7 linked regions of the Homo sapiens genome follow. The protein of the gene in region 4 purifies or fractionates together with the protein of the main gene of each other region. This does not show direct contact. Each region holds a gene or a part of one and is shown on either strand. Other genes may lie near its edges. The genes, in order: TNPO1, WASHC5, NSRP1, RO60, PSMB7, SMC4 and LRRFIP1.

Region 1 (3,500 bases), on a different chromosome or scaffold from region 4:
AAAATATCATTTAACTGTTATGGGTAGGAACGTGTTCCTGAAGTTCATGTATTAGAAACCTAATCCCTAAAGCAACGAAGATGGGAGGTGGGGCCTATCAAGAGATGATTAGGTCTTAAGGGTTCTGCCCTCATAAATGGGTTAATGTCGTTACTGTAGGAGTGGGTTAGTTATCAAGAGAGTTGGCTTATTATAAGCGTGAATTGAGCTCTTAAGTGTGTCCTTCTGTCATCAGATGATGTTGCAAGGAGGTTCTCACCAGATGCAGCCCCTCCATTCTGAACTTCAGGTATCCTGTTATAGTAGTACAAAATGGACTAAGAAAATATCAGAAATTTCCAACGTGAACTAGGCATAGTAAATGGCTAATCACAAACTACTAGACAATAATAAAATCCTCAAAAAAAAAAAAAAAAACCAAACCAAACCAAAACAAAACCATTACATTGGCCAGAAATTAACACCTTACCCATCAATAAGGATCTTAGTTATACCACATGGTAGAGCCATACAACTAAACAGTACACTGACATGCAACAAAAGGAAATCTAAATCTGTATGTACTGAGGAAGAATGAGGCATACGATACACAGAAAGAAAGCAGCAGAGTACATATAATCTGATTTCACTTTTAGAAAACTGGCTTCTCCTCTAAAAAAGATGCCTGTATGTTTTCCCAAGCACGCACAGAAAAGCTTTTGGAAGGATACAAAGAATGGGATGTGAAGAGGAAGTGTTCCCCCATCCATGTATGTATATTATTTTGTAGAGTTTTCTGTGTAATGATCTTGAGCCATCCTGCTCCCCTAATCTGAAAGTAGGGATACACTGGGAAGTAATTTGTAATAGTAGTAAACACCATGTGTTGTCTTAACAAGTGAGACTTGGGTCCCAGTACTAGATGTGCTATCAGTACTAGCTATGCTAACCTTGGGTATATCTCTCTTTCTGCAGTTTTCTTGCCTATTCAAGGTTGTTGGAAATGTTAAATATGACTTTATTCTTACTTATGATTAAACAGACTTTGATATGCATGCAAAGTCCTTGGCCTAGTGCCTGGCACATTAGGCACTCTAAATAGAATGTTAGTTACAGGAAACTGAAGAGGCAACAGAGAAATTAGCATTATCTAACCAAATGAAGAACACAGCCCAGACTGATAATGTCTGTTCTTAACTGCTTTAATCATAGTTATTAGAAATCCCAACACTTTGAACTAGAGTAGTGGCTCTAAACTGGGGTTGATTTTGTTCCCCCAGGAGATAACGGTTGTCACAACTGTGTTTGTGCTGCTGGCATCTTTGGGTAGAGGCCAGGGATGCTGCTTAACATCCCACAACGTGCAGGACAGCCTCCGCAACAAAGAATTACATGCATGATGTGGCATTCACATGTAGAAAAAAAAAAAGAATTATGTGGCCCAAAATGCCAATAGTGCCAAGGCTGAGAAACCCTGAACTAGAGCAGTAGAGGTTTAAAATCCAGCAAACAAGCAAGCAAAATCAGAACACAGGTGTTTAGGTTCATCCCCAATTAGGAAGCGTGGGCCAGAATGCTAGCTCCACAGGTGATATGATTTGCAGCTAAGGTTGGAAATTAACATATTTTAAGAAGCATATTTCATAAATTTTGACTATAACAAAGCAACTTATAATAAATTTGAATATAATAAAGCAACTTATATTATTTTAGAATTACCTATGATAGCCAATTTTCATGCAAATTACCAGACAGAAAACACTCATGTTAGAAAAACCAAAAAAGCTTGTGGCAATGTTCTTACAGTATTAAAACAAACAGCCTTTTGAGAAATGGTAGTTTAAGAATATAATAATGATAAAATAAGAGCAGGTCCACCAGGAAAATGCAAACCAAAACCACAAAATACCACTTCACGTCCACTAGAATGACTATAATAATAAAGAGATAATAAAGCAAGTGAGCATGTGAAGAAACTGGAACCCTCCAGACAATGCTGCTAGGAAAGCAGAATGGTGCAGTCACTTTGGAAAACATCCTGGTTATTTCTCAAAAGGTTAAACATACAGTTACCATATGACCCCAACAATCCTTCTCCTGAGTGTTTACCCAAGAGAACTGAATACACATTGGGCCAGACACAGTGGCTTACGCCTGTAATCCTAGCACTTTGGGAGGGCAAGGCGGGTGGATCGCTTGAGCCCAACAGTTCAAGACCAGCCTGGGCAACATGGCAAAACTGTCTCTACCAAAAAAAAAAAAACAAAAATTCATCCAGGTGTATTGGTGAGCACCTGTAGTCCCAGCTACTTGGGGAGCTGAGGTGGGAGGATCACCAGAGCCCAGGGAGGTCAAGGCTGCGGTGGGCCATGACTGCGCCACTGCATAATCATGCTAGCCTGGGTGACAGAGACCCTGCCTCAAAACAAAAAAACAAACAAACAAACAAAAAAAGTCTACACACAAAAATTATACATGAGTATTTATAGCATCACAACTCAACAGCTACAAAAAGAGAAACACAAATGTCCACCAACCAATGAATGGAGAATATGTGGCATATTACAATGAAATATTATTTCACAATACAAGTGAATGCTACAAAATGAACCGTGAAAACTTTATGCTAAGTTAAAGAAGATGGTCACAAAGGACAATGCATTGTATGACTCCATTTACATGAAATGTCTAGAATAGGCAAACCCAGAGACAGAATATTGACTAGTAGTTGCCCAGAGCCAGTGAACAATAGGGAGTTACTGCTAAAGGGTATGGGTGATGAAAACATAGTCTACAACTGATTGTGGTAATGGTTGAACAGCTCTCTGAATATACTAAAAACCAATGAAATGTATACTTTAATGGGTAGTAAACTGTACAGTAGATGAATTATACCCCAATAAAGTTATCATCAAAGTAGGCAACTGTGCTTTTCCCTTTCTGACTTACTTAGATTCCAGTCAGAAATTGTATCATCATCATCAATTTCATCATCATCATCATCTTCCTCTTCAATTCCATCTTCATCATGCTGCTGAGCCACCGTCCTCGATCGGTGAAAACGTGGCCGTATATCCTGTTCACTATCAGGAATCGTTTCGTCTTCTTCAACATCACCCTGTTGTTTTTTTAAGAGAAATTTTTGGTGGCATTCATTATAGGCTAATAGTATGTACATGAGTAAGAGAAACAGAATATCCAGAGATGGGGTCATGCACAGAATTCTGAAATATACTTCCAGAGTGATTAAGAACCACGCCCATGTACAGAACATATTCCTTATGGAGGGGCGAATAGACTGACCTAACACACCTGTTAGGTTATACGGCCCTTTCAGCCAACTACATGGCCTCCACTGGCTGGTATAATCTAAGTTACCTGAATCAAATTCAGAGCAGCATATATAAGAATGTTTTTAAAATAACTCCAAGTAATTAAGGGGAAATTAATAATAACCCTACCAATGTCACCATCTAGTACCAAATTAAGCAAGAATTTATCATTACTTAAACTTATGCTTC
Region 2 (3,500 bases), on a different chromosome or scaffold from region 4:
AAAGTGTTGGGATTACAGGCGTGAGCCACCGCACCTGGCCTGCACACTGATTTGAAAGTAAACTTCTAGACATTGTTCGAGTCTCAGCTTGGGTACTTCTCCTGTGGAATCCTCCCTGATTCTCCTGGGCTGTCATAATAGTTAGCAGCATTCTCCAAGCCTCTTAATTTTTCAATGGTGTGCTGGGTTCCCATCAGGAGTATAAACTCCTCGAGGGCCTAGGTCATATGTTCATCTTTGTTTCTCCAGCATCTGGAAATGTGCTTGGCATGTACTGCATATTTGACGGTATCAAATAAATACAGCATCTAGCAATTTTTCATATGGGATTTTACTCATGTATTCATTCATTCAGCAACTACAGTGCCAAGCACTGTTCCAGAGCTGGGAATACAGCAAAGTACATGCCAGGCTCCTTATAGAGCTAACGTTCCTTCTTGTTTACATCAAAAGGAGTTTTTAGGTGTTAAAACGATTTCCAATTCCTGTACCAATTGGCATTTTCTGATTAACAAATAACTTTTAGTACTATTAATACATTACTGGTTAATTTCGCTGATGAACTTTGCTTTTTGAATGGGTTAAGAATGACTGTACCTGGAAAAATTCTCCCTGCTCTCAATCTTTCAATCTGTGACCAGGGCTATATTTGCTCTGCTTGGAGCAAGAGAAAGGAAGGAATTCCCATGCGTCACAGGTTCCTTAGATTCCTTTGCTCTGCTGAATCAGAAAGCCTGACTTACAGCTGGTCTCCTGTAGCCTGATCACCACCCTCAGGGTTGCCAATAACATGCTGGACTAGAGCCACACTTAAGCCTTTACTGCCATTAGTGAAAAAGAAAGAGAGGAAGAAGAACCTGTCCAAGTTGACAGCTAGGGAGCTACAATTGGGACAGCCAGTTGTGTGGAGGTTACTTGCTAATCACCTCCGCACCACCTGAACTGGAGTCCTTCCCCTCCTCTCTGGGAGCCTGGGCCAGAGGCGCTGGGTTTTTATGAGCCTACTGCTTTCCTTGCCAACTGACCTCACTTCGTGATTGTTACAATTTCATTTTTGAGACTTTGAGTTCTCCTCTATTTTTCAATTGTTAAAAAATCTTGTTTCTGAAGCAAGTCTTAACATCTATCCCAGGAAAACACCAGTGTTTGTTGTTCGATTCATTAACTAAGAGGAGGAGGAGCTGGCCTGACTGCAGCTCACGGGAAATAACGACATTGGGGTTTAGAAAGAATGCAAAATCAGTAGGAGCCACTGGTATGCACTGGATGTCAAGAAACCCATCACTGCAAAGCCGAGATCACGCCACTGCACTCCAACCTGGGCGACAGAGCGACTCTTTCTCATAAAAAAAAAAAAAAAAAAAAAAAAAAGGACTCATCACTGCAATTGTAGCTGCTGTACTGTCCACAGAGGGCCCAGAATGAAGACGTGTAATACTCCTCTGTGCCAAGGGGAGGGCTGTGCTTGGAATCTCAATACAAGTTTGGGAAGCCACATTTTAAGATGGTCAAAAACAGACTGGAACACCCAGAAAAAGTCACTCACTATGGTGAGCAGCCTCTAAACTGCAAGACATCGGGAACAGGTGGAAGGGGCTTATCTAAACATTGAGAAGACCTAAGACAACAGATGGCATACAAAATCGGAAGTGATGTTGCAAAGGAGGGAGACTGCATTATTCTGTATGATTTCAAAAGGTAGGAAAAAGCTCAGCGAGTGAAACATCCAGAGACACAGGTTCTAATAATCACAATCAGGAACTTTCTAATGAGAACAAGACTTAGCCAGTGGACTGTGCTGCCTGGAGAGGTAGCACAAGCCCCCTCGGTGAGAGTGTTCCAGCAGTGGCTGCATGACTACCTGTCAAGGATGTCCTAGAGCTCATTCATGCACTTAGTGGGAGGTCAATTAAATGACCTCGAAAATCATTTCCAGTTTTAGGACTTAGTAGTATTTTGTGTGGACTTAGAAGATCACTTTGGTTCGTTTTATTTTTTTTGAGATGGAGTCTCGCTCTGTCACCCAGGCTGGAGTGCAGTGGCATGATCTCAGCTCACTGCACCTCTGAGGCCTCCTGGGTTCAAGCAATCCTCCTGCCTCAGCCTCCTGAGTAGCTGGGATTACAGGTGGCCACCACTACATGTGGTTAATTTTTGTGTTTTTTTAGTAGAGATGGGGTTTCACCATGTTGGCCAGGCTGGTCCTGAACTCCTGACCTCAAGTAATCTACCCAAAGTGTTGGGATTACAGGCTTGAGCCACTGTGCCCAGCCGCTTTGATTCGTTTTTTACATTATAGTGGCAAAAATGACCAAGCAAACATGACAGCAAAGGTTATGTAGCCAGGCTGACCCTTTAGGATAGCAGAGAAGGAGGCACAGGACCCAGCATCTCATGGAAATAACTTTTTTTTCTTTATCCCAGAAAAGCCACATTTAGGGGCAGGGGAAAAGAACTGGCAGGAATTAAAGTTTTATAAGCATTGTATCAAATAGCAACTCTTGTGAAATTTGCTTCTCTACATGCAGACACTGCCCAGGCTTTGACACACTGATATGTTCTCTGACTCCCACTGAAGTGAGTGGAATCATCTCTTGGCAGTGGCCCAGCAGGAGTGCAGGGGCTCGCTGAGATTGAAGAGCTGCATCCAAGAGTGCAGAGGAACAGGGCTGCACTTTCTTCCCCATGGTAGTTACTATTCATGGTCCTGAGTCACTCCTGGAAAATCAATGTGAGTAGACCGGATGGAGTTCCCCTGGCAGGGTGACTAAGGATGGACACACCTGTAATTGCTCTAAACAAGGAGGTATGCCCTGACTTGCTTTACAGAGAAGGGTGAGCAACCATTTCCCATCTCTATTAGGGCGATAAGAGGAATTTGGTAATGTGAGGTTTAAGTTAGGTTTTGTGACAAGAAGTCCCACGTAGTCCTGGTTGGTCTTCTGTACCTTGTACACTGCTCCACCGTGGAGCAGATAAACTGGCCAATCAGCGCCAGGAACTGCTCGGTGTACCGGGAATGGAACTGCTTCAGCAGAGTGAGCAGTCCCAGGACAAGTGGTGGCCAATCAACCGGGTCGGTCGGTTTTCGGCAGACCATTCCTGCAAGGGAACAAGTTGCAACACCATATGAAGTACTTGCCTTCAGCAACATTCATTAAATACCAACGCTGTGAAGGTCAAAATGTTTGGGGCCCATATTCTCGCTGGCAGATGATATTTTGGAGGGAATGACAATTCTGGGCCATATTTTGAATTAGCCACAGGATTGGTAGGGCATTCCAGGGGTCTGAAGGATTCAAAACCAATAAAACGGTTACTAAATTTTGTAATTATCATTACTGGTTCTTTTGAATTACTCAATTAACATATATTATTGTAGCAATTTTTAAAGATACAGATAAATGTAAATGAGAAAAAAAATCACTACAACTGACTTCTGTTAACGGCAGCATGACATACTAGATACCCTGAACTACTATCTTAAGTGAAAAGCTGGA
Region 3 (3,500 bases), on a different chromosome or scaffold from region 4:
AATATTTATAAAAACTGACTATATACTGGACCATAAAGTAAACCTCTACAGGTTTTAAAGGAATGAAACAATACAGTGCAGTGTCTTGGAATCCAAAATAATCATGTTAGGGACTGGGTGTGGCAACTCATGCCTGTAATCCCAACACTTTGGGGGGCGAAGACGGGCGGATCTCCTGAGGTGAAGAGAGCGCCTGGCCATCTAAAAATATAAAAATTAGCCAGGTGTGGTGATGCACACCTGAAATCCCAGCTATCAGGAGGCTAAGGCAGAAAAATCGCTTGAATCCAGGAGGTGGAGGTTGCAGTGAGCTGAGATCGTGCCGCTGCACTCCAGCCTAGGTACAGAGCAAGACTCCATCTCAAAAACAAAAACAAAAACAAAACAAAACAAAACAAAACAAAAAACCCCAAAAAACAAACAAGCAAAAAACCAAAGTAATCACATTAGGAATGAATAACAAAAAGGTAATCAAAAACCTCCGTTATGTTCAGAAATTAATAATAGATGGGTCAAACAAGAAATCATAATGCAAATCAGAAAATGTTTTGCATGAAACAACAAAAATACTGCCTATCAAAATCTGTAAGATACAGCTACAGAAGTACTTAGAGGGAAACATATAGCCTTAAATGCATATATTAGAAAAGAGAACAGAAAACAGAGCTATGCAGCAATCTCAAAAAGTTAGAAAAATAACAAAATAAACCCAAAGAAAACAGAATGAAGAACACACTGATCTGTCAGGACAGAAAATGAAGTAGAAACAAACAAAATGTATATAGTATCATATTAGCTCATTGTATAAGGCTCGCCAAACCTTGGTATTATCAGACTTTTTCAATCTAGATAATTGCAGCGAAAGAAAAGGAAACCATCCTATTCTGCCCAGTCTCACTTATGATGCAAAAATCTTCAATACTTAAAAACTCTTAATGAAGCTTTAGTAAGCCAAATGCAACAATATATGAAAATGATAACATTTTATGCTTATGTTAAGTTTATACCACTTATGTGAAGTTACAATGATTGATTTTCTAAAGTTAAGCTGACTTTACATTATTGGTATAAAACCAACATGGTCATGAAGCAGTATCCTTTTTGTATGTAGTTCACCATTTAAACAAATAAACAAACAACAAAACCCTCCAACTAAGAAAATAATTTCCTTAGATTAGCAACAAATATCTATCAGAGACCTACAGCAAATGTTTTATTTACTGATGACATACTGAAAGTTTTCCCAATGAAACGGAATATGACAATAATGTTGCCATCATCAGTTCTGTAAACTTGAGGTCCACATAGAAGAAAAAAATAGTTTAAAGTACCCCATTTTAAAAAGCATTTTCTCTAAGATTTAGTAAATGCAATCAAGCTAGTATTCTTCATAGTAAAATGAAAAATAATTTCAATTCGTATGGATAAAGACATTCGATGAGCTGAATCAATCAAGTGGGGAACAAAGGGAAAAGTATGTAATATAGGTGCGAGAAAAAATCAGCAGAAAGCAGGTGAAAGGTGTAAGAGTTGTAGCAGCATTCCTAATTTCCAAGCAAACTACAAAAAGTCCCACTAAACAGATAAAGTGGCTTGAACAAGACAGAGTTAAGAATAAAATCAGATTTGGGATTCATGCTTTAAGTGAAGAAAAAAAGGCAGCACAAAAATGTTAAAATAATCCTGGAAAACAAGATACCTGTATTACCTTGGATAAGTTACCCAACTCTCCAGAACTAAGTCTCCCATTTATATAGTGAGGAAGTTGAACTTAATGGTATCTCCAAAATTCTGACTCAAAGCACTCCAGTATTTATGTTAAATAATCACTGTTTTTTATGTTTTATGTGTATATTAAATCATTCTGAGGCTGCTGAGTTACACATTATATTTCACTGTGAAACTCTGACATTATCTTAAAATGACTAAATATATCCTTCTGTGCCAATTCGTCCGGGAGGGTGTGAAACACAGTGGTTAAAAGCCTAGGTTCTGAGGTTTCACTGTCTAGTTTTGAACACAGCCCTACCATTTATTAACTATGTGGTCTCATGCAAGTCACATAAATTCTTCTTGCCTTCATTTCCTTAACTATAAAATAAGGATTATAAAAGCATCTATCTCATAGAATTATTGTAAGAATTAAAGATCATTCTTAAAACATAGTTGTCATGATGCCTGGCACATAGAAAGTGCTTAATAAACTTATCTTTATGCAGGTTTCCAGTTAGACAAAGAGGAAATAGGACCAAAAATTATAAAGCTAATGGAGAGGATAAATAATTCAAAATGAAAAACAAAGGCACCTCGCTATTGTTTAATTTCATTACATTCTATAGCAGAAAATCTAAGATATACTAGTCTACAATAGCAGAAAAATTAGTAAACCTTCAGGCCTAGTTCGATAATTAATAGTATGATCTTAAGGAGCACTTTATCCTTTTTGAGTTTCAGATTTCTTAATCAGTACTATGGGCAAGTTTGTGAGAACTGTAAAAGATAAATGTATGTAAAAAGCACTTGGAAACAAGCACGTCTTTTAAAAATTATCAGGCCGCGCACGGTGGCTCACGCCTGTAATCCCAGCACTTCAGGAGGCTGAGGTTGGCGGATCACCTGAGGTCACGGGTTCCAGACCAGCCTGACCAACACGGTGAAACCCCGTCTCTACTAAAAATATAAAAATTAGCTGGGCATGGTGGCATGCGCCTTTAGTCCCAGCTACTCGGGAGGCTGAAGCAGGAGAATTGCCTGAACCCAGGAGATGGAGACTGCAGTGAGCCGAGAGTGCACCACGGCACTCCAGCCTGGGCAACAGAGCAAGACTCAATCTCAAAAAAAAAAAAAATCTATATATCTATATATCTATATATTTGTATCTATCTCTGATATTCTTCTTTCTGGGCAGATGAGTTTCAAATAATTATAAGTTTGTGAAACCATTTTGGTTGTGAAAAGGTTTTTTTTTTCCCTGCAAGTAAGCTCACTAGCAAGAATTTAATAATAACAACAGGCCAAACAATCCATTATTAGACTAATGAGTCATCTACAAGCAGAACTGGTTTAATCTATAGCACAGCAATAAGGAGCTAATTCTTCATTGTGTTTTTCCTTAAATCTATTCTGTTTTAGTCTCAGCACCTAGATACCAAAACTGATGCTTAAAAATGAGCCGGAATGCTTCACTGAATGCACTTATCCCAGTCTTCTACCTTACCTGTTTCATGGCCTGCTTCTTAGCAGCTTCCCTCTGAAGGCTTTCACTCACAGAGGTCTGTAAAACAGAAATATATTGTCACTTTTTAAACAAATTTAAAATTTCTTTTCCAGTACGAGCGTCCCCTATCTAAAATACATGGGACCAGAAGTGTTTTGTATTTCAGATTTTTAAAATACTTACTGGTTCAGCACCCCAAATCTGAAGATCTGATATCTGATGCTCCAATGAGCATTTCATTTGAGCTTCACATTAGTGCTCAAAAAAGTTTTAGATTTTAGAA
Region 4 (3,500 bases):
TACTAAAGATACTTCTGAATTTCCTGGTTCAAGTACTGAATTAGCAGTCATCTTTCCTAGATTCCTTAGTAATGCAGTAAGCGGCATTTCTTGTAACAAAGCCTTCCATACCTATTGCAATAACATAGGCAGAAATACCAGGAATTAAGGGAAAATAAATCAGTATAACATACCTATATAAAAAAATATTCATAATACAGTCTCTGAGGCTTTCATTTGGGGTTCAAAGTACTTTCAGAATGAAAAATGTCTAAGTAAAAGGCTTATCAAATAAGCTAACTTGTTTTTTACTAGAAAAAGGATGTGAAGTATATTTTATGAAGGAAATGCATAGATGATTTTTTTTTTAATTAGCAAGGCAGTAGATTTTCTGGAGTGAAACTAACACAAATGCCACCTACATCATGTTGGACATCATGGTAGGTGTTTTAAACAGACATCAATTTCAAGATATATTTTAAATAATTTCTTTTTAAAAGTATAAATATATAGCTACCCCAAGTTTATCCTTTTAGCACCTACACTAAATTACTCATGTTTAATCACATGCTGTAACATATAATTCACTCACCTCTTTAGACTTTAAGTGATTTGTTAAAAGATGTTCTCTAACTAATCTATGTTCTTCTATTAGATGAATGACTTCTAGCTCATCTCTTGTGCGCTTCACTTTCTCTACAGCCTCCAGATACTTTAATAATTTTTCAGTCTCCACAGAGAGTGCTTTTTCTTTATACAATTCATGAACTTCTTTCCAGCCCTTTGTAATATATTTGGTCACAATTGCAAGTCCTTTAACAAGATAAAGAATTGAAAAAGCATGCAGGATTACCAAGTAAAAAAACAGAACATGTTTCCTCAAAATGCATTATATGATCAACATAACTGGATACACAAGAGTTAATGCCCTTACACTGGGATGCTGCTTTCCATGATATAACAATTAAGCAAATGGGGTGAATTAATTTTCTTATTCCATCATTACTATTTAAATATGAGACTTTAGAGTAAAAAAACCTGTATCCTGAGTATTTTGTTACAGAGGCTTTTCTTTCTTTTCTTTTTAAAGACACCAGCATTAGAAAGTTTCAGGTCCATAATCTCAGAACAACTCACGAGAGTACAGATCTATCTCAATTAATATTGTATTGTATTGTAATGTATTATATTATATTAATTATATTCACTTGTCTCTTTTTGCTGTTGAATAAAATATATATATTTACAAAAACAGCAGAAATAAGTAGAAGTGGACAGGGTAGCTTCTTTTACACTATGTTTTAATAGCTGAGAAGTATTACTGCTCAAAAAAAAAAAAAAAAGGAAACAGTAACTTGTTGATTTCCTCCACAATTTCTTCCAATAGAAGAAAGAGAAAAGAGCCTTGGATTGGGGGTGAGAAAGTCTGGGTTCTAGCCTATACTCTGCCAATAAATGGTGGTCTTTCTAGGTCTTAGTTTCACCACTTCTGTAAAACAGCAGGGATTGGATTACAACATTAAAATGTCTATGAGGGACAAGCAAATAAAATAAATAAAACCACCACGGTGAGGCCAGGCACCATGGCTCATGCCTGTAATGCTAGCACTTTGGGAGGCCAAGGAGTGTGGATCACCTGAGGTCAGGGGTTTGAGAACAGTGTGCCCAACGTGGCAAAACTCCATCTCGAAAGCTGAAACTGGATCCCTTCCTTACACCTTATACAAAAATTAATTCAAGATGGATTAAAGACTTACATGTTACACCTAAAACCATAAAAGCCCTAGAAGAAAACCTAGGCAATACCATTCAGGACATAGGCGTGGGCAAGGACTTCATGTCTAAAACACCAAAAGCAATGGCAACAAAAGCCAAAATTCACAAATGGTATCTAATTCAACTAAAGAGCTTCTGCACAGCAAAAGAAACTACCATCAGAGTGAACAGGCAACCTACAGAATGGGAGAAAATTTTTGCAATCTACTCATCTGACAAGGGGCTAATATCCAGAATCTACAAAGAACTCAAACAAATTTACAAGAAAAAAACAACCCCATCAAAAAGTGGGCGAAGGATATGAACAGACACTTCTCAAAAGAAGACATTTATGCAGCCAAAAGACATATGAAAACATGCTCATCATCACTGGCCATCAGAGAAATGCAATTCAAAACCACAATGAGATACCATCTCACATCAGTTAGAATGACGATCATTAAAAAGTCAGGAAACAACAGGTGCTGGAGAGGATGTGGAGAAACAGGAACACTTTTACACTGTTGGTGGGACTGTAAACTAGTTCAACCATTGTGGAAGTCAGTGTGGCGATTCCTCAGGGATCTAGAACTAGAAATACCATTTGACCAAGCAATCCCATTACGGGGTATATACCCAAAGGATTATAAATCATGCTGCTATAAAGACACATGCACACGTATGTTTATTGCGGCACTATTCACAATAGCAAAGACTTGGAACCAGCCCAAATGTCCAGCAATGATAGACTGGATTAAGAAAATGTGGCACATATACACCATGGAATACTATGCAGCCATAAAAAGGATGAGTTCATGTCCTTTGTAGGGACATGGATGAAGCTGGAAACCATCATTCTCAGCAAACTATCGCAAGGACAAAAAACGAAACACTGCATGTTCTCACTCATAGGTGGGAATTGAACAATGAGAACACATGGACACAGGAAGGGGAACATCACACACCAGGGCCTGTTGTGGGGTGGGGGGAGGGGGGAGGGATAGCATTAGGAGATATACGTAACGTTAAATGACGAGTTAATGGGTGCAGCACACCAACATGGCACATGTATACATATGTAACAAACCTGCACGTTGTGCACATGTACCCTAGAACTTAAAGTATAATAAAAAAAAATTAGCTGGGCGTGGTGGCACATGCCTGTAATACCAGCTACTCAGGAGGCTGAGGCAGGAGAATCACTTGAACTGAGGAGGCAGAGGTTACAGTGGGCCAAGATCGTGCCACTGTGCTCCAGCCTGGCCAACAGAGTGAGACTCTGTCTCAAACAAACAAACAAACAAACAAACACAGTGATGTAATAGAGAGTTGTTAGGGTGTGGTGACTGAACAGAGTGTGCCCTGACAAGTGGTGTAGACACGTATTGACTTAGTGCTGCCAAAAGAAAAAAAACTTACTTTCAAGAGAAGCCAGAATATGGGTTTTTATGTCGATTTTTAAAGATAATGACAAAGAATTCATTTTTACCCAAAAATATTGTATAGGCCACATGAAACACATCTCTATGCCAACTGAGCCTATTATGTTATTTTTGAATGCTAAATAACTTGATCAAAAGTTAACACTAACATGCAGGAACTTCTCAAGTATTGTGACTCTTGCTATCTTCCAGATTTTGGTGCAAAATCATCTTAAATGAGTAAATGTTTCCTGTGAGTATATCTTCTATTTTGTTTTTCCAGTGAAAATAAAAATTCCTTAAAGCAGTTTTATCCTACCCGGTTCTGTAATTGCGCTGGCCATG
Region 5 (3,500 bases), on a different chromosome or scaffold from region 4:
TTTCTTCCAACCTGGAGCTCCACTCCCTCTCCACTGGCCGTCTTCCCAGAGTTGTGACAGCCAATCGGATGCTGAAGCAGATGCTTTTCAGGTAAGTTTCCAGAATGGGGATTCCTACTAGTATCTTCTTCTCATATCTTAGATTTTTTTCAGCCAAGAGAAGCCTGGAAAGTAGCAAAAACACATTCAGAAATACACATTTTGTTCCGGAAATCAGTTGTTATATTAAAGAGCCATTTTAAATGGTTTTTGATGGTGCATTTGAATTTCTGGGGCCTGATTTTTTTCATGAGTAAATCACATGTCACCAGTTGAGTCATTTCCTGGAGCATAGGGATATTACTGGATAAGAGAAACTTTTTTGTTCACGGTAAGAAAGTTATAGCTGGAGGAACTATCAAGTTGTCTTGTGAAACTACTCTCTCCTCCCCATAAACACAAACCCAAATGATTGTCTCTCCTTCCCCCCACCCCCTCCCTTTAGGGGCAAAATAACAGTGAATGAAAAGTGATATTTATAATTGGCTGTCAGTGGGTATGATAATATTAATATTAACCAACCTTTATCTACCTCTTACTCTGTTCCAGGACCTATGCTAAAGCGCTTTATGCACGATTTCATCCTTTTAACTCTGAGATAGGGACTATTAGCGTCTCCTATTTGTAAGTGAAGAAATTGAGGTTTAAAGAGGTGCAGTAGCTTGCCTGACCTGACCTTCATTCTCTGCTGACTCACAGCTCATATTAGTAGTTTTGTTTCTCTTTCTCCTTTAATAATTGCGTCATTACTTTATGTTTGTATGGGTCTTGGCAGTTTTCAAAGTGTGTTTTCTCATTTGCTTCTCATAAGAGAGGCAGTGATTTTAGGAGAAGTAGCCTGGGCATTTAGTCTTGGGTTGGAATACTGGCTTCTCCTTTTGGGACTTGCCTTACCTTTAACAAATTCTTTGCCTTTTTCCTTCTGTGTAGAATGGATATCATAATACCTGCCCCTAGTGGGGTGGTTGTGAGAATTAAAGGGGAGCACGGATAGACAGTAAAGATTTTAAACTGGTGGCTCATAGGCCATCAGCTTGTAGGGAAATTTGTTTGGGTCATATGGCCTTTTTTTCTTTTTAAATAGTGGCTAACAATTGTAAATGGGGAGATTTGAATTAAAAGTCTAGATTTTGGCTTGGCACGGTGGCACACGCCTGTAATCCCAGCACTTTGGGAGGCCAAGGTTGGCGGATCACCTGAGGTAAGGAGTTCGAGACCAGCCTGGCCAACATGGTGAAACATCTCTACTAAAAGTACAAAAATAGCCGGGCATGGTGGCGCTTGCCTGTAATCCCAGCTACTTGGGAGGCTGAGACAGGAGAATCGCTTGAACCTGGAAGGTGGAGGTTGCCGTGAGCCAAGATCACGCCACTGCACTCTAGCCTGGGTGACAGAAGAAGACTCCGTCTCAAAAAAAAAGAAAAAAAAAAAGTCTAGATTTCTGTCTTTTGAAAACATTGGAAACATGTGGCCGTAATCTTCGGGAACTCATTGGTGGTTGTTGCCTTAGAAGTGGGAGTGGGTGCTCTGTCACTTTCTCTGCCTGGCTCACTTCACTGTTCCCTTCAGGGCCCTGGCCTTCCTGATAATTTGCGGGTCCTCATCTATGTGTCTAGCATGGCCTGTGGGTTTTCAGTAGTGTATATGAGGTTGTAGCAAGGCCAGTAGTATAGTTCCCATTTTACAAATGAGACCAAAGCCTAGAGTCATATGGATAGGAAGCCTTGTCTATCCAATTGCTGCTTTATGTTTGTGTACGTATCATTATTCTAATCCAGGAGAATTATTGCCAACCAAATTCTCCCAGTACAGTGAGTAGAACTTGTTAAAGCACACCTATTGATCAGATTTCTGAAAAGATTTGTGGATTTTAATTTTAAATATAAAGCTCCCTCTGGTGGCTTGCTTGGTACATTATATATAAGGCTTTTTTGAAAACTTTTTTTCTACACGATGTGTCTATGTAATAAAGGCAATTTTTAAGCTTGTAAAATTGCTGCAAATAAGATGTTTCAAGATTCTTTGTAATGTCATTTAAAACAATTAGCAAAAAAATCTAGCAAATGTTTCTGTTAATCACTTCAGAATGTTTTAAGAATCCTAACATCTCGGCTGGGCGCGGTGGCTCATGCCTGTAATCTCAGCACTTTGGGGGGCCGAGGCAGGCAGATCACAAGGTCAGGAGATTGAGACCATCCTGGCTAACATGGTGAAACCCCATCTCTACTAAAATTACAAAAAATTAGCCGGGCGTGGTGGCGGGCGCCTGTAGTCCTAGCTACAGGAGAATGGCATGAACCCGGGAGGTGGAGCTTGGCAGTGAGCCGAGATTGTGCCACTGTACTCCAGCCTGGGTGAAAGTGCGAGACTCCGTCTCAAAAAAAAAAAAAAAATTCTAAATTCTCTTTTTTCAGTGTTTTGTCATTTTTTAGTTCAAGATACTTTGTAAAAGTTAAATTTTATCAAAATTTGAGGACCATTTAAAAATATAAACCAGCATAATTATAGTCTTTTATGTCCTCTTAACATTTTTGGTGAGTTACATAAAATGAGAGTGGTATAAGGAAAGAGTTTAGGATTTGATTTTAGAACTTTGGTTCATCTCCCACCTACAGCACTGACTGTCGTATAAATTTGGGTGATTCTTTCTCAATAAAATGAGGATAATAGTTTCTGTCTATCTGACTTTTGAGGAGGACAGGAATAAAGAAGCTAGGCTCTGACCTTGCATACTACAGAGCCTACTGCGTAGTTAGAGCCCCGTAAAATTCAGTCTGAAAAAGAGTACAAGGTGTTCTTGGTACTGCTGTACTTTTTTTTTCTGAACAGCCCATTTCCTTGTATGTGAGTCAGTGAGAAAATAAGGTTTGATAAGCAGAAGTGATGTCTTTTCCCTTACTTAAGCACTGCCTTTATCTCACACCTATCCTGGCTATATGTAGTTGATGTAAGTAATGCTTGTTCTGTGAGCATGGAACCTCCTTGTTGAGTTTCATAAAAATGTTAGTGAAATGCTGTTGTGTGTTCTAGAAACTATTACTTGAATACGTAGAGACTCTTATATTGTAACTTTTTTTCTTATAAACATAATGTACATTTATTGTAGGAAATTTAGAAAATACTGAAAAGCCCAAAGAACAAAATGAAAACTTTGCCATTCAGGGAGCATCACTCTTGGTTTGGTGTATGTTATTCCAGTCTTCTGTCTCTTAAGTTCTTCCCTTCCTCTCTTCCTTTTATATTGCTAGTACATGTTCATGGTAAAAACAAAACAAAGCTGGAAGATATGAACAAAAAGAATGTAAAAAACTACCTGGATTCCTGCCACCCACGAGCAGTTAGTGCTAAGAGATTGTTACACACCCTTCAAGGTTTTAAAAATAAGTTCAGTAATATTTAGAAAATGGGATTATAGTTGTACTGACTGTAGTATAGCCTAGTCTTCTCACCTAACAGTGCAT
Region 6 (3,500 bases), on a different chromosome or scaffold from region 4:
TTTTTTCTTTTTTTGGTAGAGATGGGGTTTCGCCATGTTGCCCAAGCTGGTCTCAAACTTCTGAGTTCAGGCAGTCTGCCTGCCTCAGCCTCCTAAAGTGCTGGGATTACAGGCGTCGGCCACCACATTGGTACAATGAAATCGATTTTTGTTCCTAAATTCTAGCCTTGACCCAGGGGGATTTTCCCCTCATAGCCTAGGCAGTCATATATTGACTAGTTAATAATATTTTAGAAACAGTTAGTTTTACTAAAATTGTTATACAGTTTTGGAAATGGCATTTTAGGAGCTTCAATTTCTTTTTTTTTTTTTCCTCCCTATAGTTATGAGTTGCAGAAACGAATTGCTGAAATGGAAACTCAAAAGGAAAAAATTCATGAAGATACCAAAGAAATTAATGAGAAGAGCAATATACTATCAAATGAAATGAAAGCTAAGAATAAAGATGTAAAAGATACAGAAAAGTAATAATATTTTGGGAAGTACTAAAAGTATTTAGATAATTGTATTACATGTGTATTTATATATAAAGTTACTTCTAGCACATTGTGAGTGTAAGACATTTGCCAGCATATCAAGTGGTGGCCCCCTTAGTGAAAAAAAAAAACTTGCCTTGCATCCAGTTCCTTGTTACAGATGAAATTCCCTACTCTGAAGTCTTAGAACCGTGGGGATGCTACCCCCTAGTGGCGTAGCACAGTAACAAACAATAAGCATTTGGCTTCACAGTTTAATCTTTTAGTAGTCCACAAATCTGATAGAGGGATAGGATTTGGGTTTTTCTAGATAGATTTTTAAGGGTTTTATCATGTCCCTACTTGATGCCATTTTTCAATGACACTAGTATCTCTAATTATTTTTAAATAAAAAAATTTGTATAGTAAGTTTATTGTATAGTAACTTGTAAGTATATTCGTAAAAGGTAAAACCAAAATTTTACTCCTATGGTAAAATTTTTATATACCTAGACATTGTAGTCACTGGAAAATGTGTTATTTTCCCTCCAACTTAGAAAGGCAAAATAGCTGTCATAATCAAAAATACAGGTGCTTCTTCAACTATGGGGAGAGGGATCATCTTGGAATAAGGAGAGTTTTAGGATCCTGCCTTATTAAGAGCCTGGACATATTTATAGAGGAAGTGTTCCAGGTAGGAAATGTGGTTTTAAAATATGTGCACATTCAAAATAATGACTTACAATATACTTGCTTTGCTAGGAAACTGAATAAAATTACAAAATTTATTGAGGAGAATAAAGAAAAATTTACACAGCTAGATTTGGAAGATGTTCAAGTTAGAGAAAAGTTAAAACATGCCACGAGTAAAGCCAAAAAACTGGAGAAACAACTTCAAAAAGATAAAGAAAAGGTAGGTGTTAGAAAAAAATTCTTAAAATTTCACGTCTGAATATCATACCTAGTTTTCATGGATGTGTTTGCCCCTTATTGCCTAAGAGAATGAATTAGTATTCTAAATGTTGTTTTAAGGTTTGTCTCTGAACATGATTTTACCCCCTCAAGGGAAACCTTGCTTCTACTGACTTTATTTTGCAGGAGGTTTTTTGTTTGGTTTTGGAATTTTGCAGAGATGGGGTCTCAGTCTGTTGTCCAGGCTAGCGTGCAGTGGTATGATTATAGTCTTGAACTCCTGGGCTTAAGAAACCTACCTCAGCCTCCCAAAGTAACGTGGACTACAGGTGTGAGCCATTGCTCCTAGCTTGACTTTGAGTTTTAAAGTTTATATTACAATAATATGTTATTGGGAAAACATTTACCAAATCAGGAGTTCCATTTTGGTGTTAATTTTAATTTTCTTTTTCCTAAAGTAGTAGTTTTTAAAGATATTTAAGTTAGGTATTACAGACTTAAAAATATTGCCTGTCTTCTACAAAAACTAAGCTAACAGGATCAGAGCAGGATTTCCCAAGAATTACCAATGTTGGCCAGGCACAATGGCTTACACCTGTATTCCCAGTGCTTTGGGCGGCCAAAGTTGGAGAATTGCTTGATGCCAGGAGTTTAAGACCAGCCTGGGCAACATAGTAAGATCCCATCTCTACAGAAAATCCAAAATTAGCCAGGCTCAGTGGAACTTGCCTAAAAGTCCTAGCTAGTCAGGAGAGTGAGGCGGCAGGATGCCTTGAGTTCAAGATTCCAGTGAATAGTGATCAAGCCACTGCATCCAGCCTGGGTGACAAAGTGAGACTCTGTGTCTTAAAGAGAGATAGGAAAGCTCATAATTTGGAATCTCTTAAGCTGTGTTCATGTTCATAGCTCTGTCATATTTAAACAGATATGATACCTTAACCCCAGCCCCGCAAAAAAAAAGCTTTGTTCCATATGGTTACACAATAATTATAGATTAGGCTCTACTTTACGCTATAAGCATTTTCTAAATGTATTTGTTCACAAAATACTTTCTGCTTAGCACAGCTGATAAATACGTTGAGTCAGTGTTTAAGGAAGTGGCATTTTGGGAAATGTTGAACTTCACAGGTACTAGATAATCAGAGTAAACAAAATAACAAGGCTTTGGGGGTAACCCCAAAGACTTGACAGACTTAGCTAAGTGTAACTGTTACAGAGTGATTAGCCTTTAGGCATAGACTGCATGGATAAGTGATTATTATCAGAAGATGTTAATGGAGTAAAATATTAGCCCTACATGATGACTCTGGAAGAGTAAAGTTGTGAAAGATTTTAGGGTTGGGGAGATGGTAAAGATAATTTGTGGTAAGTTATGATATACCAGGAAGGATAGTTTAGAAAATTCCGTGTAGTCAGAGCATATTTATAGCTAAAGAAGAATAATTACAACCTGAAATCAGGAGAGAAGGATGACAGACCTGAGGCCCTGCCAGAGACAGTTTTCCTTCATAAGAGGTCAGGTGTTTGTAGAAGTAGTTTTACTATTAGATTGAGAGAATATAGAAATTACAGTGAATAGTCGGGAAAATACTTGTTAAAGCTAGCTAATTTAACTCTGATTATAAAGAAAAGAAGAACTAGAGGACCCTGAGAAATGCCTTTAAATATGTCAAATATTGATAGTATTGGGTAACATAAAGATGTATGCTCCTATAACTTGTTTTATAATCTCAGGTTGAAGAATTTAAAAGTATACCTGCCAAGAGTAACAATATCATTAATGAAACAACAACCAGAAACAATGCCCTCGAGAAGGAAAAAGAGAAAGAAGAAAAAAAATTAAAGGAAGTTATGGATAGCCTTAAACAGGAAACACAAGGGCTTCAGAAAGAAAAAGAAGTAAGTTTTTTTTTTTTATCAGTGTTTATTTTGGTGGCTTTTTTTTTTTTAACTTAAAGATTATTTTTTCAAAAATACTGAAACCTGAACTGGTAAGTTTGGACTTTTAATGTCCAACATTCCTAAAACTAGTCAACCTAGACTTAGATGACTATTCTTTTAATTCCTGCTGACATGTTTTTTAAAAAGTTTACTAAATGAGAGTTTGTAGTAGTAGCAGAAGGTGTGATGTCA
Region 7 (3,500 bases), on a different chromosome or scaffold from region 4:
AGAAATAGCTACCAATGGAGAGACTTCCGACACCCTCAATAATGTTGGATACCAAGGTCCTACCAAGATGACAAAAGAAGAGTTAAATGCCCTCAAGTCGACAGGGGATGGGACCCTAGGTAAGTATTTGCTTTCCTTCGGCTCCTCACACCTTTCCACTCAGCATTGGTTCACCCTCCATGCACTGCTGGGGTTGGAGCCACCGTCGCTGATGGGTTAACAGTCACCAGCATGCCATTTGTTTCATCACTTCATGGTAATTTCCTTGCCCACCCGGTGTGGTCACCCACGTGTTGTCTGGCATGCATCTCTGTGTAGTGCACCATCAATGGCTCAAGTGAACCTTTTCTTTTGCTGCTCAAAGCTACCAAGCAAGACTGTGAAGGCAAAAGGAAAACAGTCTCAAAATTAAGTAACAATGTGGAGAGTACTATTTGGTTTTCCTCAGACACATATATATCTGTACCTATAAAGTGTGGCTTTTTAAACCGATTCTATGACAGAATTATCAAAAGATCAGAATGGTTGAGGCCGTCAAGTCAGTTGGCCATATTTGCAAGCCAACATCGACATCCTGGGCAGCATTCAGCGCTTTGAGGGTACGGGGTGCCTGTGGACAGCAGGTCCGTCTGTGTTGCCTTTTTCAAGCCACCGCTCGAGGTGGGCAGGCGGCCGTGGTAGTGGGTGTGGCGGTGCTGAGAGTCTGAGTATGCCCACCTTTGTCAGAGGGGATCCTCCTTTGTATGCCACGTGTTTGCTTCTGAAAGAATATAAAACTGGGGAATCCAGTAGATCAGAGGAATATTTTATACCATTTTCAATGATCTGATTTGTCATAATTTGTCATAAGAGTTGGCTTTGGGAGAAACCTTCAGATTCTGGCGTGCAGCCTGAAGTTGCAGCGTGCAAGTGAGGCCTCATCTGTCACTGGTCACCCTCTGCGTTCCAGTGTTTTACAAAGAGGCTGGAATAAGGTCAGGGTCCGTGACTTTTCATTTTAATGTAGAAGCTTTCATCTTATTTCTTTTTATTTATGGAAATGTAGACACCTCCAGGCCCCATCTTCTCAGGCCTCGCATTCCAGGGAGGTACCTCATTCATTATCTTTATGACTATTAAAGAAACACAGCTCTTTTCAATTGTGTAAAAAAAGTTGTGGCCTAGTGCAGTGGCTCACACTTCTAATCCCAGCGCTGCGGGTGGCCAAGGCTGGAGGATCACTTAAGACCAGGAATTCCAGGCCAGCCTGGCAACCTAGCAAGATTCCGTCTCTAGATAGGTATGTAGTATCTATATACCGTTGTTGAGAAAAGATAAATTAATCAATTTCCATCATACCTTTATATGAGCTACCCGAACAGCTAGGAATCTGATTACGCTGCTCTTACTCAAATACACATTTTATAAATCTTTGATAACCATTGTGAAATGTTGTAAGAACCAGAAATGTCAGTTTTGAAAGTGGCCTTCAAATGACTTTTGATCACATATTCCTTCAGCAAAGAATTGTAGGATCCAATATGTATGTTTATTTTAAATCTACATATGTATACTATTTCATTAATATAAAATGTACGTTATAAAATATATGCAAAGATATGCAAAGAAGTTTTAGAGTAAAACTCTAAATAGAATTCCTAATATTTCCCCCATTTTCCCTGGGATATGGGCACCCCACCATGGAGATCACTGGGCTATAAAATTATCTAGCTTTGACTTTCAGTAACATAGTACCATATCTAATCTGCTGGGGTTTTGTTTGGAGAGTCCAAAAATTCCAAAACAGTTTGATGTTCTTTAGACGATGAATAATTTATCATTTAATTTAGTGGTCATCTTGATCTTGAACATTTGCCTCCTGCTGGTCCTCTCTCCCTAGTCCCTTAGGGAATGGAGCAGAGGTATCAGGGCATGGACACAGGGTGTTTTCTCAGGAAAACAATAGTTGAGTGGCAGAAGATAGATTTCCTTTCATATGAGCTATTTCAAAAGCATCTTCCTTGAGACTGACCTTGAGGCTGCATTTCTAAAAGTGCACTGAATATTCTTTTTAAAAATTACTTGAAAGCTGCTTTTAGGGCTGTGTGACATGGAGTGCAGTTTGACAGCTGCAAAAGTACAAGTTGTCAAGTTGTTCATTGAGAAGTGAGAGTGGGGAATTGAACCTTCAGTCTGTTCCTAAACCCATCATTGTGGATTGTTTGGCTGCCTGATCCAGAGTTCTTTCTATTTGTTGAAACTTAACGTCACCTTTAAAAATCTGTCCACACAAGATGGCACCAGCAGCCACTCTGGCCTTTGATGTGGTGGCAGTGGCCCTCACTGACCCAAAATTTACTAATGCAACTGCTGCTTTGCCGCACAGAACTGGCAAAGGCTTGTTTCTCATGACTCTTTGATGACTCTGTCTTTAGGAATAGGGGTGGGTGGGATTTGGAACGTGTGTTTACATTCTAATGTAGATTATGTGGCCGCCACATCATGGGGTCCCTTCAATTTTCTCAATGGTCTTTTAGGAAGAGCCAGTGAAGTGGAGGTGAAAAATGAAATCGTGGCGAATGTGGGGAAAAGAGAAATCTTGCACAATACTGAGAAAGAACAACACACAGAGGACACAGTGAAGGACTGTGTGGACATAGAGGTATTCCCTGCTGGTGAGAATACCGAGGACCAGAAATCCTCTGAAGACACTGCCCCATTCCTAGGAACCTTAGCAGGTGCTACCTATGAGGAACAGGTTCAAAGCCAAATTCTTGAGAGCAGTTCTCTCCCTGAAAACACAGTACAGGTTGAGTCAAATGAGGTCATGGGTGCACCAGATGACAGGACCAGAACTCCCCTTGAGCCATCCAACTGTTGGAGTGACTTAGATGGTGGGAACCACACAGAGAATGTGGGAGAGGCAGCAGTGACTCAGGTTGAAGAGCAGGCAGGCACAGTGGCCTCGTGTCCTTTAGGGCATAGTGATGACACAGTTTATCATGATGACAAATGTATGGTAGAGGTCCCCCAAGAGTTAGAGACAAGCACAGGGCATAGTTTAGAGAAAGAATTCACCAACCAGGAAGCAGCTGAGCCCAAGGAGGTTCCAGCGCACAGTACAGAAGTAGGTAGGGATCACAACGAAGAAGAGGGTGAAGAAACAGGATTAAGGGACGAGAAACCAATCAAGACAGAAGTTCCTGGTTCTCCAGCAGGAACTGAGGGCAACTGTCAGGAAGCGACAGGTCCAAGTACAGTAGACACTCAAAATGAACCCTTAGATATGAAAGAGCCCGATGAAGAAAAGAGTGACCAACAGGGAGAGGCATTGGACTCATCGCAGAAGAAGACAAAGAACAAGAAAAAGAAAAACAAGAAGAAAAAATCCCCAGTACCCGTAGAAACCCTTAAAGATGTTAAAAAAGAGTTAACGTATCAGAACACAGATTTAAGTGAAATTAAGGAAGAAGAGCAGGTAAAGTCTACTGACAGAAAGTCAGCAGTGGAAGCCCAAAACG

The links.
Region 1: the proteins of RO60 (region 4) and TNPO1 fractionate together in Homo sapiens (co-fractionation; one large-scale study listed by BioGRID). This does not show direct contact.
Region 2: the proteins of RO60 (region 4) and WASHC5 fractionate together in Homo sapiens (co-fractionation; one large-scale study listed by BioGRID). This does not show direct contact.
Region 3: the proteins of RO60 (region 4) and NSRP1 fractionate together in Homo sapiens (co-fractionation; one large-scale study listed by BioGRID). This does not show direct contact.
Region 5: the proteins of RO60 (region 4) and PSMB7 fractionate together in Homo sapiens (co-fractionation; one large-scale study listed by BioGRID). This does not show direct contact.
Region 6: the proteins of RO60 (region 4) and SMC4 fractionate together in Homo sapiens (co-fractionation; one large-scale study listed by BioGRID). This does not show direct contact.
Region 7: the proteins of RO60 (region 4) and LRRFIP1 fractionate together in Homo sapiens (co-fractionation; one large-scale study listed by BioGRID). This does not show direct contact.

The regions. Positions count from the first base shown.
Region 1 is NC_000005.10:72,882,661-72,886,160, reverse strand, and holds part of TNPO1 (transportin-1), read right to left. Parts: intron 3,098-3,500; coding exon 2,929-3,097; intron 1-2,928. UniProt on the Homo sapiens protein: Functions in nuclear protein import as nuclear transport receptor. Serves as receptor for nuclear localization signals (NLS) in cargo substrates.
Region 2 is NC_000008.11:125,029,293-125,032,792, forward strand, and holds part of WASHC5 (WASH complex subunit 5), read right to left. Parts: intron 3,103-3,500; coding exon 2,949-3,102; intron 1-2,948. UniProt on the Homo sapiens protein: Acts as a component of the WASH core complex that functions as a nucleation-promoting factor (NPF) at the surface of endosomes, where it recruits and activates the Arp2/3 complex to induce actin polymerization, playing a key role in the fission of tubules that serve as transport intermediates during endosome sorting.
Region 3 is NC_000017.11:30,172,316-30,175,815, reverse strand, and holds part of NSRP1 (nuclear speckle splicing regulatory protein 1), read right to left. Parts: intron 3,275-3,500; coding exon 3,218-3,274; intron 1-3,217. UniProt on the Homo sapiens protein: RNA-binding protein that mediates pre-mRNA alternative splicing regulation.
Region 4 is NC_000001.11:193,073,112-193,076,611, reverse strand, and holds part of RO60 (RNA-binding protein RO60), read right to left. Parts: intron 793-3,500; coding exon 572-792; intron 112-571; coding exon 1-111. UniProt on the Homo sapiens protein: RNA-binding protein that binds to misfolded non-coding RNAs, pre-5S rRNA, and several small cytoplasmic RNA molecules known as Y RNAs.
Region 5 is NC_000009.12:124,408,943-124,412,442, reverse strand, and holds part of PSMB7 (proteasome subunit beta type-7 precursor), read left to right. Parts: coding exon 1-91; intron 92-3,500. UniProt on the Homo sapiens protein: Component of the 20S core proteasome complex involved in the proteolytic degradation of most intracellular proteins. This complex plays numerous essential roles within the cell by associating with different regulatory particles.
Region 6 is NC_000003.12:160,413,150-160,416,649, forward strand, and holds part of SMC4 (structural maintenance of chromosomes protein 4), read left to right. Parts: intron 1-323; coding exon 324-464; intron 465-1,217; coding exon 1,218-1,368; intron 1,369-3,101; coding exon 3,102-3,266; intron 3,267-3,500. UniProt on the Homo sapiens protein: Central component of the condensin complex, a complex required for conversion of interphase chromatin into mitotic-like condense chromosomes.
Region 7 is NC_000002.12:237,760,087-237,763,586, forward strand, and holds part of LRRFIP1 (leucine-rich repeat flightless-interacting protein 1), read left to right. Parts: coding exon 1-119; intron 120-2,516; coding exon of another isoform or gene 2,517-3,500.